Homo sapiens: one gene and its partner. The protein of the gene in region 1 interacts with the protein of each later gene in a biochemical or structural test. Each region holds a gene or a part of one and is shown in the gene's direction. Other genes may lie near its edges.

Region 1 (7,984 bases):
CCCGGACGGGGCGGCCCGATGGCGGCGCCTGCGTTGATCAGCACCGCGGACAGCGGCGGCGCAGGCAGCGGGCCGGGGGCGGGGCCCTGAGGGACGGGGACTGGGGGTCCCCGGGCGCGGCGGCGGCGGCCGGGGCCGCGGTCCTGGGGCGGGGCCAGGCGTCGGTGGCCGTGACTGGAGACTGTTACTGAGGGCGGCCCGGGCAGTAAGCAGTCTAGAGCCAAGGTGCCGGCGCGCTGTCCGGGCGGGGTGCCCCGGTCGCCCCGGCTGCCCCGGCTGGGGGCTCTGCTGCTCCGCCTCCCCTGCGTCTCCCGCCCTGCCCCGCCCGGCGCTCGCGACCAGGCACGCGGCCCCTGACGTCAGAGGGCCGTGACGTCAAAGATGTCCCAGAGGGGGCACTTCCGGCGGGGGCGTGGGGGCGGGGCGGGACCTGGGAGGCCCCGCCCCCCCGGTCCTGAGAGGACAGCTCCGCTCGCAGAGGCGGGAAGCCGTGGGCGCCGCGGGACCCGCTGGACGGGACCTGCCGGGAAGGGGCGCCCGACGCCATGCGGGGCGGGGGTCCCAGGAGGGCCGGGGAAGCGGGGGTGGGCGTCCGTCTCTCGCCTGCACCCCCGCTCAGCCGGCCCGGGCAGCGAGGCTGAGTCACCGCGCCGCAGGGAGGGAGAGGAGGGGGCGCGTCTCCTGGGGCGCCAGCACCTTCGCCTCACTTTCCTGGGAGAATGGCGCAGGAGCCCCAAGAAAGCCGGGGGGGGGTCTCCGAGGTCGGTCCTCCACTCGATGCTCCTCCGAAGTAGCTGCGTGTCCATCGGGCGCCGGCAGGTGCTGCGCGGGCTCGTGTCGTCTCTGGCCCCGGCTCCGCAGCCGCGAGGGGACCCCGGTGCCCCCCGTCCGCCCCCATCCCCACCCCGGAGGGGCCGCCCCACCCGCCGCCTGCCCGTCCCCTCCTCGTCCTCCCGTCCGTGTCCGCACATCTGTCCCTCCGCGGCTGGTCCGTCCCGCTTACCTGGCGGGCCGCGTCGCCACTGCCCGGTCGCCTCCCGCAGCCTGGCCGGCGCGGCGGCTTTTATAGGCGCGCGTAGTACTCGTGCGGCGGCTCATTCATGCGGCCGCGGCTCCTACACACTGACGCGCTGCCGACGTCAGCGGGGAATTTAGGAAATGGGAAAAGGGGCTATTTATAGTGGCGAGGCGGGGGGTGGGGACCGAGGCGACCGGGAGGGGAGGAGGGGGCGCGGAAGCGGCGGCGGGGTAGGGGGAGCCGCGCCCCTGCCCAGCCGACAAGGGGTTAACTTTCCGGAACCGCGGGCCTGGGGCCGGGGAGGCGGCGCGGAGGGGCGCGGCGGGCCCTTCGAGCTTATTCACGCTCTCCTTCCGGAGCCCCGCGGCTCCTGGGGGTCTTCACGTGGCAGCCCCTTCCCCCTCCTCAGTTCCTGGACCTGACGTTTCTGCCGTCACACCCCGCAAGGCCACTGCGGTGTCGCCACCCTCTCGTCCTGCAGGGTGGGCAGGAGAGGAAGCTGGACTCCCGTGGGGGCCTGGGGCGCAGCGAGGGCTGTGGCGTCGGGGGCCGGGAGAAGAAGAGTAGGGGAGCCCAAAGTAGCCCAGGAGTCTTTAGCGGAGGAACCTGGGCCTGGGAGGGAAGGCCCAGCGGGGATTCAGGTACCACCCAGGAGCTGGAGACCCGAGGGACGGCAGAGAAGTTGGGGAAGGTGGGCCAACCTCCCCAGAAATGATGAGCAACGGGATCCTCTATGAGGGAGCTGGGGGAACGCGCCAGAGGTAGGGGTGAGAGGAATGGGCAGCCTCAGCAAGGGAGAGAGGAAAGGCTGTCAGTGCCACGCTCCAGAGCCTGGCATCCAGGACCCACCTTCGGACCATTTGTGGCACGATGGACGCTCCCAGAGCTCACGTTAGGGTAATAGAGAGTGAAGGAGACCAGCAGCTTGGCCAAGAGGGGCCCCCAGGGGATGAGGAGGACGGTTTCCTGGAGAAGTTAATGTTCCCGGAGACCAGAATTGGCAGGGAGAGCCCATGACTTGTGGGGCAGTTCCCCTGGTTGGGAGCGGGGAAATGCATGGTCCTGGCCCAGCCTGGCTCCATCGAGATGGAGGAAGGGTCTAAATGAGAGGAGTGTGTTCAGACGAGGAGCTGGACCAGGATGGGGAGGGCTGTGCAAGGCATGGCCGGAAGAGCGGGGCAGGGAGAGAAAGGTCGAAGAGTGAAGTGCACAGGAGGGCAAGGCGGTCCTCACCCTGCCTGGGCTGGGGCAGGGCTGTGAGACCCTCCCTTACAGAAGCAATGAGGGCTTGAGGAGGGGGTTAGGGGCCTGGGCTGGGGCAGGGCTGTGAGACCCTCCCTTACAGAAGCAATGAGGGCTTGAGGAGGGGGTTAGGGGCCTGGGCTGGGGCAGGGCTGTGAGACCCTCCCTTACAGAAGCAATGAGGGCTTGAGGATGGGGTTAGGGGCCTGGGCTGGGGCAGGGCTGTGAGACCCTCCCTTACAGAAGCAATGAGGGCTTGAGGAGGGGGTTAGGGGCCTGGGCTGGGGCAGGGCTGTGAGACCCTCCCTTACAGAAGCAATGAGGGCTTGAGGAGGGGGTTAGGGGCCTGGGCTGGGGCAGGGCTGTGAGACCCTCCCTTACAGAAGCAATGAGGGCTTGAGGAGGGGGTTAGGGGCCTGGGCTGGGGCAGGGCTGTGAGACCCTCCCTTACAGAAGCAATGAGGGCTTGAGGATGGGGTTAGGGGCCTGGGCTGGGGCAGGGCTGTGAGACCCTCCCTTACAGAAGCAATGAGGGCTTGAGGATGGGGTTAGGGGCCTGGGCTGGGGCAGGGCTGTGAGACCCTCCCTTACAGAAGCAATGAGGGCTTGAGGATGGGGTTAGGGGCCTGGGCTGGGGCAGGGCTGTGAGACCCTCCCTTACAGAAGCAATGAGGGCTTGAGGATGGGGTTAGGGGCAGTAAGTTAACTTGGGGAGCGGATGTGGGGGAACGCTGAAGAATAAAGACTGTGGGCACAGCAGACCCCTGGGGCAGGTTAGCAATGCACAGACTCCACTGCACAAGATACATGGGGCGGAGGGGCTCTTTGGAAGTCGGGGGTGGGGGATCTGACTCTATCAAAAAGAGAAAAGATAAAAGAGATGGGGTCAGAGAGGCCCTGCATAGTCTGGATTTGGCCTACTAGAGCTCCAGTTTTCTTGCCGCTAGCCTTTGTTCCAGGGATTCTGTTATTCACAAATGCCTTCCTGCTCGGTAGAAGAACTCCTATTCATCCGTCAAAGCCCAGCTCTAGGAGCACTTATGAGGAGCCTCTCCACCTCCCCTCAACACTCCGTAACTTCCACCTCAGGCCGCAGCACGTCCCTCGGGCGAGATGTCGGGGTCCGCCTTCCCTAGAGACCGGCAGCTCCGGAGGCCTCCGTTTTCCTCTTTGGGACCTCACTGCTTCTAAAGTGAGGATGCTATGGGGAGACATGGGAGAGGGAGTGGGTAAGATGGATCCAGAACATGGGGCGGACTCAGGCAGCGGCGGGAATCAGGCGGACTCGTTTGGACCGAAGCCTCCGCCAGGCACCGAAGCCGTGAAGTCGCCTGCGCAGCAAAGGGAGCCTCCGGGGGGCGCCCGAGACCTTGGTGTCGCTCGGGGGCCGCTGGTAGCCGCGCCCGCTGCCCCTCGCCCGGTGACTCAGCCGGTACCTCTGGCGGGGCCATGGGGGCCAGAGGACAGCGCGGGGGGCGGCGAGCGCGGTTGCTAAGCTCTCCAAGGCCTCGGAGGGACAGGATCTGGGCGCACCTCACCGGTTGCCATGGTAACGCAGCGCCCCAGCCCCTCGCGCTCCGCGGTGGAGGGAGGCGCAGCCAATCGGAAGCGGCGGAGTTCTCGGGGACCCCCCCCCCCCCCGCTCCACGCCGTGTGTGGGCGGGGGTCAGGAGGTGCGGGGCGGAGGCGGAGCGTGGGCCGCGGAGATCCGGCGTTCGCAGGAGGCTTGGTGCGCGGCGGGGCTGCACGGGGCCACTTCCGGAGTAGTACTGCGAGCAGCGGCGCGACAGTGCGGGGTCCCCTTTCTCCCAGAAGAGACGTCACCCACACAAACCTGACCTTCACGTGGGGCGCGGGACCTTGCGGGGTCCCAGCCGCAGGCGCCCCTGTTGTTTCCTTCGGGCGGGTGGGTTGGAGAAGAAGTCCACGCGGGATTCTTCAAAACGGCGTACAGGGGGATTCTAGGGCCCCATGGTTACTTCTTTGGACCCCCCGGAGGCGCTGTCCAGCCACTTCCAGTCGCCCTGATGACTCGTCGTGGGTTCCTTTAGGAGACCCGAAAGTTCAGGGCGGGCTGTGTGGGTAACACCTCTGCCCAGGTTCCCGGAGGGCCCTACGTGGCTGCCCCTGGAGTATCCCAGAGCGCTAGGGCTGCGGGAAGGGGCGGGTGTGCTTCTGGAAACATGAGCGCCTGTTAGTATCAGTGCCTGGATAGGGCTGGGGACAAATCAGTTTATGCCGCGCACACCGAATCCATGCGCCTGAGTGAGGGTGGGTGTGTTGGGGAGTGCGTCCAAGTGGACAGTGCCGTACAGTAATGTCTACGGGGAGTTCCAGGAGAGCTCGGCTACTCCTGCGCAGGATAACCTCTCCCCCACCACCCGAGTCCCGTGCTCGCGGGCAGGACTTTTCCGAACTGGGGCTGTGTGCCTAGAAATACGTACATGGGAGCGCTCAGCTCAAAGCCCCAGGGTTTCTGGGACTCGCGTGTCCGGGGTCGGGGTCCCAGGTGGGTACAGGTGGGAGGGCGAACCTGCGGGTAGGGTGGGCCCCTCCCCGCGGGCTCAGCATCTGTGCGCCTCCAGCTCAGGTGCGCGGGAGGAAGGCAGCGGCCTGCCGCGCAGAGCCCTGCGCGCCCGCGAGGTGGCGCCATAGCCGCAGCAGCGCCCGCCGGCCCGGGCCGCTCCAGATAAGAGTGTGCGGAAAGCGCGGCGGGGCTGAGACGCGACCAGGACGCGGGGAGGACGGACCAGCAGGACAGACCGACCGGGGGCCCGGCGGGCGGAGGGCAGCGCAGCCACGTCCCCCCTGGATCCGCCGTCAGCCGGGCCCGGGGCTTTCGACATGCCCCCCAGGTGGGTCCTCGAGCCGGGGACCGGGAGGGACGGGGGACCCGGGACAGCCCGGTCCTCGTGCGTCGGCCGCCTCGGGTGCATCTTCTGGCGCGGGTGCCCCATCGCGGCTGGCGGCTGGCGTTCAGGGCTCCGGGTGTCGTCCCTTTCGGACTCAGGACCACCGGGCCGCGGCTCCGCGCCGGGTTCACGGCGGGGTCAGCGGCCCGGGGCCGGCTCTGCCCGCACATGGGCTGGAGAGGCGAGGGGAAGGGAAGGGAAGGGGAGCTGGCGGGCGGGGCTGGCAGGGGCGCTGCCCTGGCACAGCTCGGGGCCTGGCAGCGGCGGGTGGGGCATCGGCTAAGAGCTGCCACCGCCGCGGGGAGGGGAGCCCGGCCCGCCGGGACCGCAGGTAACGGGCCGCGGGGCCCCGCGGGCCAGGAGGGGAACGGGGTCGGGCGGGCGAGCAGCGGGCAGGGGAGCTCAGGGCTCGGCTCCGGGCTCTGCCGCCGGATTTGGGGGCCGCGAGGAAGAGCTGCGAGCCGAGGGCCTGGGGCCGGCGCACTCCTCCCGCCCTGTCTGCAGTTGGAAAACTTTTCCCCAAGTTTGGGGCGGCGGAGTTCCGGGGGAGAAGGGGCCGGGGGAGCCGCGGAGGGAGGCGCCGGGCCCGCGCGTGTAGGGCCCAGGCCGAGGCCGGGACGCGGGTGGGGCGCAGGCCCGGGTCAGGGCCGCAGCCGGCTGTGCGCCGTGCCCGCCCGGGGCGCTGCCCCCTCCCTCCCCTGGGAGCTGCGTGGCTCCCCCCTCCCCCCCACCTGCTTCCTGCCTCAGCCTCCTGCCCCGATATAACGCCCTCCCCGCGCCGGGCCCGGCCTTCGCGCTCTGCCCGCCACGGCAGCCGCTGCCTCCGCTCCCCGCGCGGCCGCCGCCCGGGCCCCGACCGAGGGTTGACAGCCCCCGGCCAGGGCGGCGCCAGGGCGGGCACCGCGCTCCCCTCCTCCGTATCACTTCCCCCAACTGGGGCAACTTCTCCCGAGGCGGGAGGCGCTGGTTCCTCGGCTCCCTTTCTCCCTACTTGGGTAAAGTTCTCCGCCCTGAATGACTTTTCCTGAAGCGGACATTTTACTTAAATCGGGTAACTGTCTCCAAAAGGGTCACTGCGCCTGAACAGTTTTCTTCTCGGAAGCCCCAGCACCCAGCCAGGTGCCCTGGGGCGTGCAGGCCGCCCTGGCCTCCCCTCCACCGGCGGCCGCTCACCTCCTGCTCCTTCTCCTGGTCCGGGCGGGCCGGCCTGGGCTCCCACTCCAGAGGGCAGCCGGTCCTTCGCCGGTGCCCAGGCCGCAGGGCTGATGCCCCCGCTCAGCTGAGGGAAGGGGAAGTGGAGGGGAGAAGTGCCGGGCTGGGGCCAGGCGGCCAGGGCGCCGCACGGCTCTCACCCGGCCGGTGTGTGTCCCCGCAGGAGAGTGTGCTGGGCAGACGATGCTGGACACGATGGAGGCGCCCGGCCACTCCAGGCAGCTGCTGCTGCAGCTCAACAACCAGCGCACCAAGGGCTTCTTGTGCGACGTGATCATCGTGGTGCAGAACGCCCTCTTCCGCGCGCACAAGAACGTGCTGGCGGCCAGCAGCGCCTACCTCAAGTCCCTGGTGGTGCATGACAACCTGCTCAACCTGGACCATGACATGGTGAGCCCGGCCGTGTTCCGCCTGGTGCTGGACTTCATCTACACCGGCCGCCTGGCTGACGGCGCAGAGGCGGCTGCGGCCGCGGCCGTGGCCCCGGGGGCTGAGCCGAGCCTGGGCGCCGTGCTGGCCGCCGCCAGCTACCTGCAGATCCCCGACCTCGTGGCGCTGTGCAAGAAACGCCTCAAGCGCCACGGCAAGTACTGCCACCTGCGGGGCGGCGGCGGCGGCGGCGGCGGCTACGCGCCCTATGGTCGGCCGGGCCGGGGCCTGCGGGCCGCCACGCCGGTCATCCAGGCCTGCTACCCGTCCCCAGTCGGGCCTCCGCCGCCGCCTGCCGCGGAGCCGCCCTCGGGCCCAGAGGCCGCGGTCAACACGCACTGCGCCGAGCTGTACGCGTCGGGACCCGGCCCGGCCGCCGCACTCTGTGCCTCGGAGCGCCGCTGCTCCCCTCTTTGTGGCCTGGACCTGTCCAAGAAGAGCCCGCCGGGCTCCGCGGCGCCAGAGCGGCCGCTGGCTGAGCGCGAGCTGCCCCCGCGCCCGGACAGCCCTCCCAGCGCCGGCCCCGCCGCCTACAAGGAGCCGCCTCTCGCCCTGCCGTCGCTGCCGCCGCTGCCCTTCCAGAAGCTGGAGGAGGCCGCACCGCCTTCCGACCCATTTCGCGGCGGCAGCGGCAGCCCGGGACCCGAGCCCCCCGGCCGCCCCGACGGGCCTAGTCTCCTCTATCGCTGGATGAAGCACGAGCCGGGCCTGGGTAGCTATGGCGACGAGCTGGGCCGGGAGCGCGGCTCCCCCAGCGAGCGCTGCGAAGAGCGTGGTGGGGACGCGGCCGTCTCGCCCGGGGGGCCCCCGCTCGGCCTGGCGCCGCCGCCGCGCTACCCTGGCAGCCTGGACGGGCCCGGCGCGGGCGGCGACGGCGACGACTACAAGAGCAGCAGCGAGGAGACCGGTAGCAGCGAGGACCCCAGCCCGCCTGGCGGCCACCTCGAGGGCTACCCATGCCCGCACCTGGCCTATGGCGAGCCCGAGAGCTTCGGTGACAACCTGTACGTGTGCATTCCGTGCGGCAAGGGCTTCCCCAGCTCTGAGCAGCTGAACGCGCACGTGGAGGCTCACGTGGAGGAGGAGGAAGCGCTGTACGGCAGGGCCGAGGCGGCCGAAGTGGCCGCTGGGGCCGCCGGCCTAGGGCCCCCTTTTGGAGGCGGCGGGGACA
Region 2 (7,043 bases), on another chromosome or scaffold:
CAACATGTATTCCCCACTTCGGGTAAATCTGACAGACTAGCCTTGTTTTTCTCAAATTCCAGAGCCAAGCTTTCAATATGGTTTGTCTTCTTTGCTGGTGTGCGTGAATCTCTGAGCCATAACTGGGGCGTGTGGTGAAACGATGGAATCACGGACTTTTAAATATTAACAGGCAACTTAAAAAAGCCCATTCCAACCACCTCATCCACCAGGTGAGACAAGACGAAGGGGCCGTGGGTGACACAGCCTGTGGCAGGCCTATTTCTGCAGTCCCCTGTCAGGCACATTCCTGTATTTCAATGGGCACCTAACACTTCACCATATCTCCCACGTGGGGAACCAACACTTAAAAGGTGATTTGTGTAAACAGAAACCTCCTTTTCATGCTCATTGATAGGGATAAACAAGGAAGCACCTCTGGAAGAGGTAACACTACTCACTTAAGTTTTAAGGTATCAGCATGTATCCAAAGAGAAGGATTTAATCAAGGGAGGGCTGAAGGAGAGGAGAAAACAGAAGAGAAGCAGCAGAAGGGCAGTGGATGAAGAGGGCGAGGTCAAAGTCAGAGAGGCCTAGGGACAGCTACTTACAGTTCAGGACCTGGACTGGCGCCAGGAATGGACTCCAAGGGGTGAGGGCCCAGCTTCTCCCTGCCTTCCTCCCAAAATATGCAGAGACCTAACTGGATTCCAAGGGATGAGGGCACAGCTTCTCCCCCCTCCCACCCATTTCCCAACATGCAGAGCCCATGGTGGCAAAATCCCCTGGCTCAGGCTAAAGTCAGAACTGGTCTGGTTTCCTGTGTTTTTCAAATCTCTGCCATTTGGGCAGAACGCTTGGTCCTATAAACCAGGAGTCATCAGTATCCACAGAGAAGTTGCCTCAGCACTTGGACCCAAGTCAACTGTGTTTAAAATTTCACACCAAATCTATAAATTACACATTCACATTGTGGGCCAGCCTACCTTTTTTTTCAAATAGTATTCAAGGTATTTTTCTTTTTTTTTCTTTTCTTTTTTTTTTTTTTTTTGAGACGGAGTCTCGCTCTGTTGGCCAGGCTGGAGTGCAGTGGCGCCATCACGGCTCACTGCAAGCTCCGCCTCCCGGGTTCACGCCATTCTCCTGCCTCAGCCTTCCGAGTAGCTGGGACTACAGGCACCCGCCACCACGCCTGGTTAATTTTTTGTATTTTTAGTAGAGACGGTGTTTCACCGTGTTAGCCAGGATGGTCTCGATCTCCTGACCTCGTGATCCGCCCGCCTTGGCCTCCCAAAGTGCTGGGATTACAGGCATGAGCCACTGCGCCCGGCTATTCAAGGTATTTTTCAATACCTTGCTGCCTGGCTACTGCAGTGCCAATTCTGCCATTCCCCCCCGCTCCTCAATTCAGGCATCACCTGAGGGACTTGCAGAGCATCAGGGATCTGGCCCCTCTGAGATCTTGCTGGTCTACTCAAGCCTTTGTACAGCACCAGGCAACGAAATTAAATGTGGGACATGCACTATCACAGAATAACTTTTTAATTGCTTAATTAAATCAGAGATTTAAGGAAGGAGAGATTCAAAAGAGTTCCCTTTGAATGAGAAAAATAAGGATATGCCAAAATGGATAAAGTTACTAATCATGGGAACAAAGCCCTTAGTATTTACATATGATAAAAATGCAGGCCAGTATAGTAAAATCAGTAAGTACATTCTTTAAAATTTCAATTCAGTATATTCCTGAGATTTTATTATACAGGTAGTACTATAAAGAACATAGAAGACCTCATTATCCAACTTAATTCAGACCAGGGTTTGATTAAAAAAATAAAAAACAAAAAACTACCACACAGGACAAAGAAATTGCCATAAAATTGAGTTCCTATAAATGTGTTCCAGTTTAAGTAACTAAGTCCCTAAAATGAGCCTTAGTAAAGTCTACGCTGCATATAGACAGACTTAGGCACATCAAGTATACAGGTGACAATTAGCAAGTGTATAAAGCTATGGTCATTTCGCTAAATGTGTAAATCTAAAGGCAACCAAGTAAAAGACCTAAAAAAGGAAACTGTTAAGTCCATTTGTACATGGATTTAACAGTGAAGCATTTCATTCTTCATGTTTTCACTTGGTGTCTTGAAATAATCCCCTTTCTGTCTCCACTCTCCCTCTTAGACACTGCACCTGCCTTATTTATTTATGAAGTCTGAAGGTTAGTCCTACCTGCTGAGACTAATTAGCCCTGTGCTTTGTATCCTATGCAATCCTGTCTGATTAAATGTACACATTTGTTTTACTTCTTTTCAGGCTCCTTCTCACTCTACTTCTGATATTCTGATTAATATCAAAGTTGGGAGTTACAGTGATTCTCCTCTGCCTCCCCCCCAACCCATTTTTATTTTGCCTGCATCTTATTCTTTAGTGTGCAAATGTGGTTGTGATTTTTTTCCAGTGCAGGGGAATTCGTTGGCCTTGTCAATCTCGGTATCATTATTTTTAGTAGTCTTTCTGAGACTTTAGCCTATAAAACAGTTTTGCTGAAACCCCAAACTCTCTAAATATTACATGGCAAATTTGCTTTCTTTTGGAAACCTCGGTGCTGATGGGCCAGCTGAAGTGCAGGTGAGCTTTTTCAGGGAAGGGTGGGACAACAGTACATCCTGGACTCTAGACTAATACTACTCCTAAGAGGCAATTTGCTAAATCCTACTGATTTATTTTTTTCTTTTTTCTCTTTTTCATGTTGTAGTGTCCAGTCTACTTCTTACTGGGTATTTGCAAAAATGAATTTTCTTGCTCTATCACCCAGGAACATTGTGTTTTGGGAGCTGGGTCTTTCCTCTTTAACATAATTCCATTCCCCATTTTGTAGCAAATCAGTCTGCTCCTCCTCTAATACCTAAAAGTCAACAAATACCTGCCTCAAGCCCCAGGTTTCCCATCTTCTCCCGAAGGTCTTCTAGCATCGGTTTGGTTAGCAATTTCCTGCCAGAGCCACCTACATCTTGATTATTTTGGTCAGTCTTTCGGGGATTTCATTTCAGACCCCCTTCGAGAAACACTGTAGCCCAACTGATCCCAGGGGTTGGTGAACTTTCAGTTTTATTTTCCCTGACGGTGTTAACGCCCAAACTTTTCACCTCCTAAGTCAAAAAGGACTTTGACTCTAGCTCATTTCCTACTACCTCCAACGTCAGTTAAAAAAAAAAAAAAAAAAGCAAAACACCACTCTACATTTAAAAGAATCATATATTTTTCCTTAAGGATACTTTTAATGTTTCTGACATTTAGCATTTGTTTTTTGCATAAAAAGTCGTTTTGGCATATCCATCCTAGTGGGACTTAACATTTCATGAAATGATTCACTACTAATAAACAAAAAAGGGAGGAGGGAGGCCTCATGGGTTAATAGTTTCTTTCATTGTAGATGACCAGGAACTTTGACCAGCCCCTTCACTTCCCCAAGCTCTCTGAAAGTGGAGGGTTGATCTTTCCTTTTGACCACTTTTGTCGCATCCCGTCTAAGGGTGGCTGATTTCACTGCTGAATTAACCACCAAGCACCCCCCCACCCCCTCCCCCAGCCACCACTTTCTCAAATACTACCCTTCCTTTTCCCCCTCCCTTAAGACTTATTTCTAATATTTCTAAAGTGCACTGTTTTGGGCCTCTCCCCATCCCCGCCCCCCAAGTGGGCTTTCCTTCCGCCTTCCTCGGCTCGGATTCCTGACTTGGTCGCCACCCCCTTCTCCTCCTCTCCCACCCCGCATTGTCTTTCTGAAACCGCCCCCTCCCGGAGCAAGTCCCTGCACCCTCGCCCAGAATCCCGGGCTCGCACACACTCCGCGCAGGCCGCTCCCCCTGCACACTCCTCCCTCCGTCTCCCCCCGGCTTCCCCGCCCCTCTCTTCCTCCTTCTTTCCCTCCTCCCTCTCCCGGCGCCCGAAAGGATCATTGTTAGCCGCCCCCGCCCCGCCCACCCCGGCTGTTTATTTATGCACACGTCACTGGGCCGGCCCCGCCCTCCGGCATCTCATTAAGGCAGTGTGTTCCTCTCGCCCTGTCAATAATCTCCGCTCCCAGACTACTCCGTTCCTCCGGATTTCGATCCCCCTTTTTCTATCTGTCAATCAGCGCCGCCTTTGAACTGAAAAGCTCTCAGTCTAACTTCAACTCACTCAAATCCGAGCGGCACGAGCACCTCCTGTATCTTCGGCTTCCCCCCCCCTTTGCTCTTTATATCTGACTTCTTGTTGTTGTTGGTGTTTTTTTTTTTTTTACCCCCCTTTTTTATTTATTATTTTTTTGCACATTGATCGGATCCTTGGGAACGAGAGAAAAAAGAAACCCAAACTCACGCGTGCAGAAGATCTCCCCCCCCTTCCCCTCCCCTCCTCCCTCTTTTCCCCTCCCCAGGAGAAAAAGACCCCCAAGCAGAAAAAAGTTCACCTTGGACTCGTCTTTTTCTTGCAATATTTTTTGGGGGGGCAAAACTTTTTGGGGGTGATTTTTTTTGGCTTTTCTTCCTCCTTCATTTTTCTTCCAAAATTGCTGCTGGTGGGTGAAAAAAAAATGCCGCAGCTGAACGGCGGTGGAGGGGATGACCTAGGCGCCAACGACGAACTGATTTCCTTCAAAGACGAGGGCGAACAGGAGGAGAAGAGCTCCGAAAACTCCTCGGCAGAGAGGGATTTAGCTGATGTCAAATCGTCTCTAGTCAATGAATCAGAAACGAATCAAAACAGCTCCTCCGATTCCGAGGTAGGAAAAGCCCCTCGGGCTGGTGGGGTTTTTTATCTGTTTCCTGGGCTTGGCAAATGTTGCTGAAAGGGGAGAAATCGGGGCTGGGGGCGGCGGCGGGGCCCGGCGGGCGGCGTGTGCGTACGGTGCCACCATTGCAAAAACTTGTAACCCTGTTTTTTTCTACCCCCCCCTCGACCTCGCCGATTCTTTTTCTCCCCCTTCTCCCCCTTCTGCGTGGCGTTTGCCCCTCGCCCTCCCCACCTCCACCCCTCTGGGAAGGCGGAAAGACGGCCTCCGCCTCGCTCCGAAAGTTTCCGAGACAAATCCCGGGAAAGTTTGGAAGAAGGTGAGTACGCCCCGCGCGCCCCGCAGCCGCCCGGAGCCGCCCCCCGGGCCGGCCGCCCCGCGCGCCCCGGCCCCGCGCCCGGCTCGGCCTGGCCCTGCGCCGGCCCGGTCGGGGCGCCCGGCCCCTCGGGGCACTTTCTAAAAAGTTTCTCCTCACTCTCTCCCGCTCCGCGCGGCCGCCGCTGTCCCCTCGCCGCCCCGCCATGTTAGCGGCCAAGAGGCAAGATGGAGGGCTCTTTAAGGGGCCACCGTATCCCGGCTACCCCTTCATCATGATCCCCGACCTGACGAGCCCCTACCTCCCCAACGGATCGCTCTCGCCCACCGCCCGAACCGTAAGTGCCTCCGCGCCCGGCCCCCGCCCGCTGCCCGCCCGCCCGCGCCGCCCGCCGGGCCCCGCATGCGGCCCCTGCCCTGCCCCCTCCCCGCCTCCCCCTCCCCGCCTCCTCCCCTCCCTCCCTCCCCTCCCCCGCTCGTGGCCCAGGAGGCCCGAAACTCTCCAAACTTTTCTGCCTTTTGTGGACTGGATTTGTTTGCACTTCGCCACGTTCTTGCTTTCAGTTTGCTGCCTCGTGATGTTGGGGAGACCTCTCTGTCCAAGCAGGGCTTTGTTGGTGGGGAGGGGGGGGAATCCGAAGAACTTTCCTTTGCGTTCTGGTTCCCCCTCCCCCTTTGGTGGTGGTGTTTGTTTCTTCACCCTGGGAAGATGACTCTGTGGCTCTTCCTTTGCTCTCTCTCCCTCTCTCTCCTTCTCTTCCTTCCCTCTTCTGTGGCGTCTTGGGCTTTCCCCGGTTAACCCCTTGGCTGCCGCTGCGGGCCACGAGTGACTGACTGTGCTGCGCCCGATGCGCGGGGTAGAGAGTGGGTTTCCTCCAGGCATTGGACTTGAGAACTGGCTAGCGCGCAGAGCCCGGGGCCCTGGAGAGGCTCCTTGGCTTTCTCTTTTGGGCGACTATGTATTTAGCTTTCTAGTGGAGATTGCTGGCTCTCGGCCCTCCTTCCCCCTTCCCCTGGAAGGTCACACTTCCCAGATTGGTCCCACCGCAAACTTGGGGGCTCTGAGGCGTCCTTTTCTTTGGCAACCCGCAGGGCCGCGAGCGCCCTGGGCGCCGTGGCGGGCTCCGCTGCCCGGCGCACTGGCTGCGGGCTCTCCCGGGCCGCGCAGGGCAGCAGGGCTGAGTGGGGCGGGGAGGCCCCTGCGGCCCGGATTCTTGGTTTGTGTGCAGCCGGAATGGACTCCTCCAAGCGGACTTGTGTATTTCTAGGGAATTTTGGCGCCTTGGGATGTATGGCGGGGTCGGCGCTCGCCAGCTTCCGTGTAGGCCCGTCGTGGGCCCCAGGGGGGCCAGAGACCAGGGTGTGCGGGCTCAAGGAGGTGCGGGGGCCGAGGGAGGCTGGGGCGCCTCTCCTTCAAGGGAGTGGGCCGCCGATCGCCGGCCACCCAACTTTGGGGGCCCCAGGGCAGCGCGGGGTGCCGGGCTCGGGGGGCGCTTCCTGCAGGGTCGGTCCCGCGCCCAACCCTGACATTTGTTAATACGGCTCATCCCCTCCCCCACCGGCCTGTGCCCCCTGCCCTCACCCTGAACCCCCTCCTCCTCATCCCTCCCTCCCTCTTCTAAGAAGCCTGGATTACGAATCCCTGGACGCAAGACGCATTTGTGCCCGGCTTCCCGGTATTGTCATTTTACACCTTCTCCAGTTTGGTCCCCTACCCCTTATTTACACACACGACTTTTGTTTTTTCTTTTTCGGTAACTCTAGATAGCAATTTGAAATAATGCACCCACTGTTCAGCAGCCATGGATTCGGTGCTAATGGCCGAGGGCTTGCCGGACGGGAGTCGATCAGATCTACAAGTGTTTTTAAGCATTAAAATATTAACTATCAGGTTTGACTTGCTTTTTTGGGCCCTGGCAAAATGGCAAGGGCATGCTAGACCGGTCATTTTTTTTATGGCTAGGGAAGAGAAATAATT

What was found. The genes of interacting proteins can lie anywhere in the genome.
Region 2: the proteins of HIC1 (region 1) and TCF7L2 form a complex in vitro, tested with the Homo sapiens proteins (one study listed by BioGRID).

Annotation. Positions count from the first base shown.
Region 1 is NC_000017.11:2,050,124-2,058,107, forward strand, and holds the start of HIC1 (hypermethylated in cancer 1 protein), read left to right. Parts: upstream 1-4,979; 5' UTR 4,980-5,115; intron 5,116-6,186; coding exon of another isoform or gene 6,187-6,223; intron 6,224-6,547; coding exon of another isoform or gene 6,548-6,567; coding exon 6,568-7,984. UniProt on the Homo sapiens protein: Transcriptional repressor. Recognizes and binds to the consensus sequence '5-[CG]NG[CG]GGGCA[CA]CC-3'. May act as a tumor suppressor. Involved in development of head, face, limbs and ventral body wall.
Region 2 is NC_000010.11:112,946,205-112,953,247, forward strand, and holds the start of TCF7L2 (transcription factor 7-like 2), read left to right. Parts: upstream 1-4,042; 5' UTR 4,043-4,552; coding exon 4,553-4,741; exon of another isoform or gene 4,742-4,803; intron 4,804-5,002; coding exon 5,003-5,069; intron 5,070-5,278; coding exon 5,279-5,403; intron 5,404-5,573; exon of another isoform or gene 5,574-6,138; intron 6,139-7,043. UniProt on the Homo sapiens protein: Participates in the Wnt signaling pathway and modulates MYC expression by binding to its promoter in a sequence-specific manner. Acts as a repressor in the absence of CTNNB1, and as activator in its presence.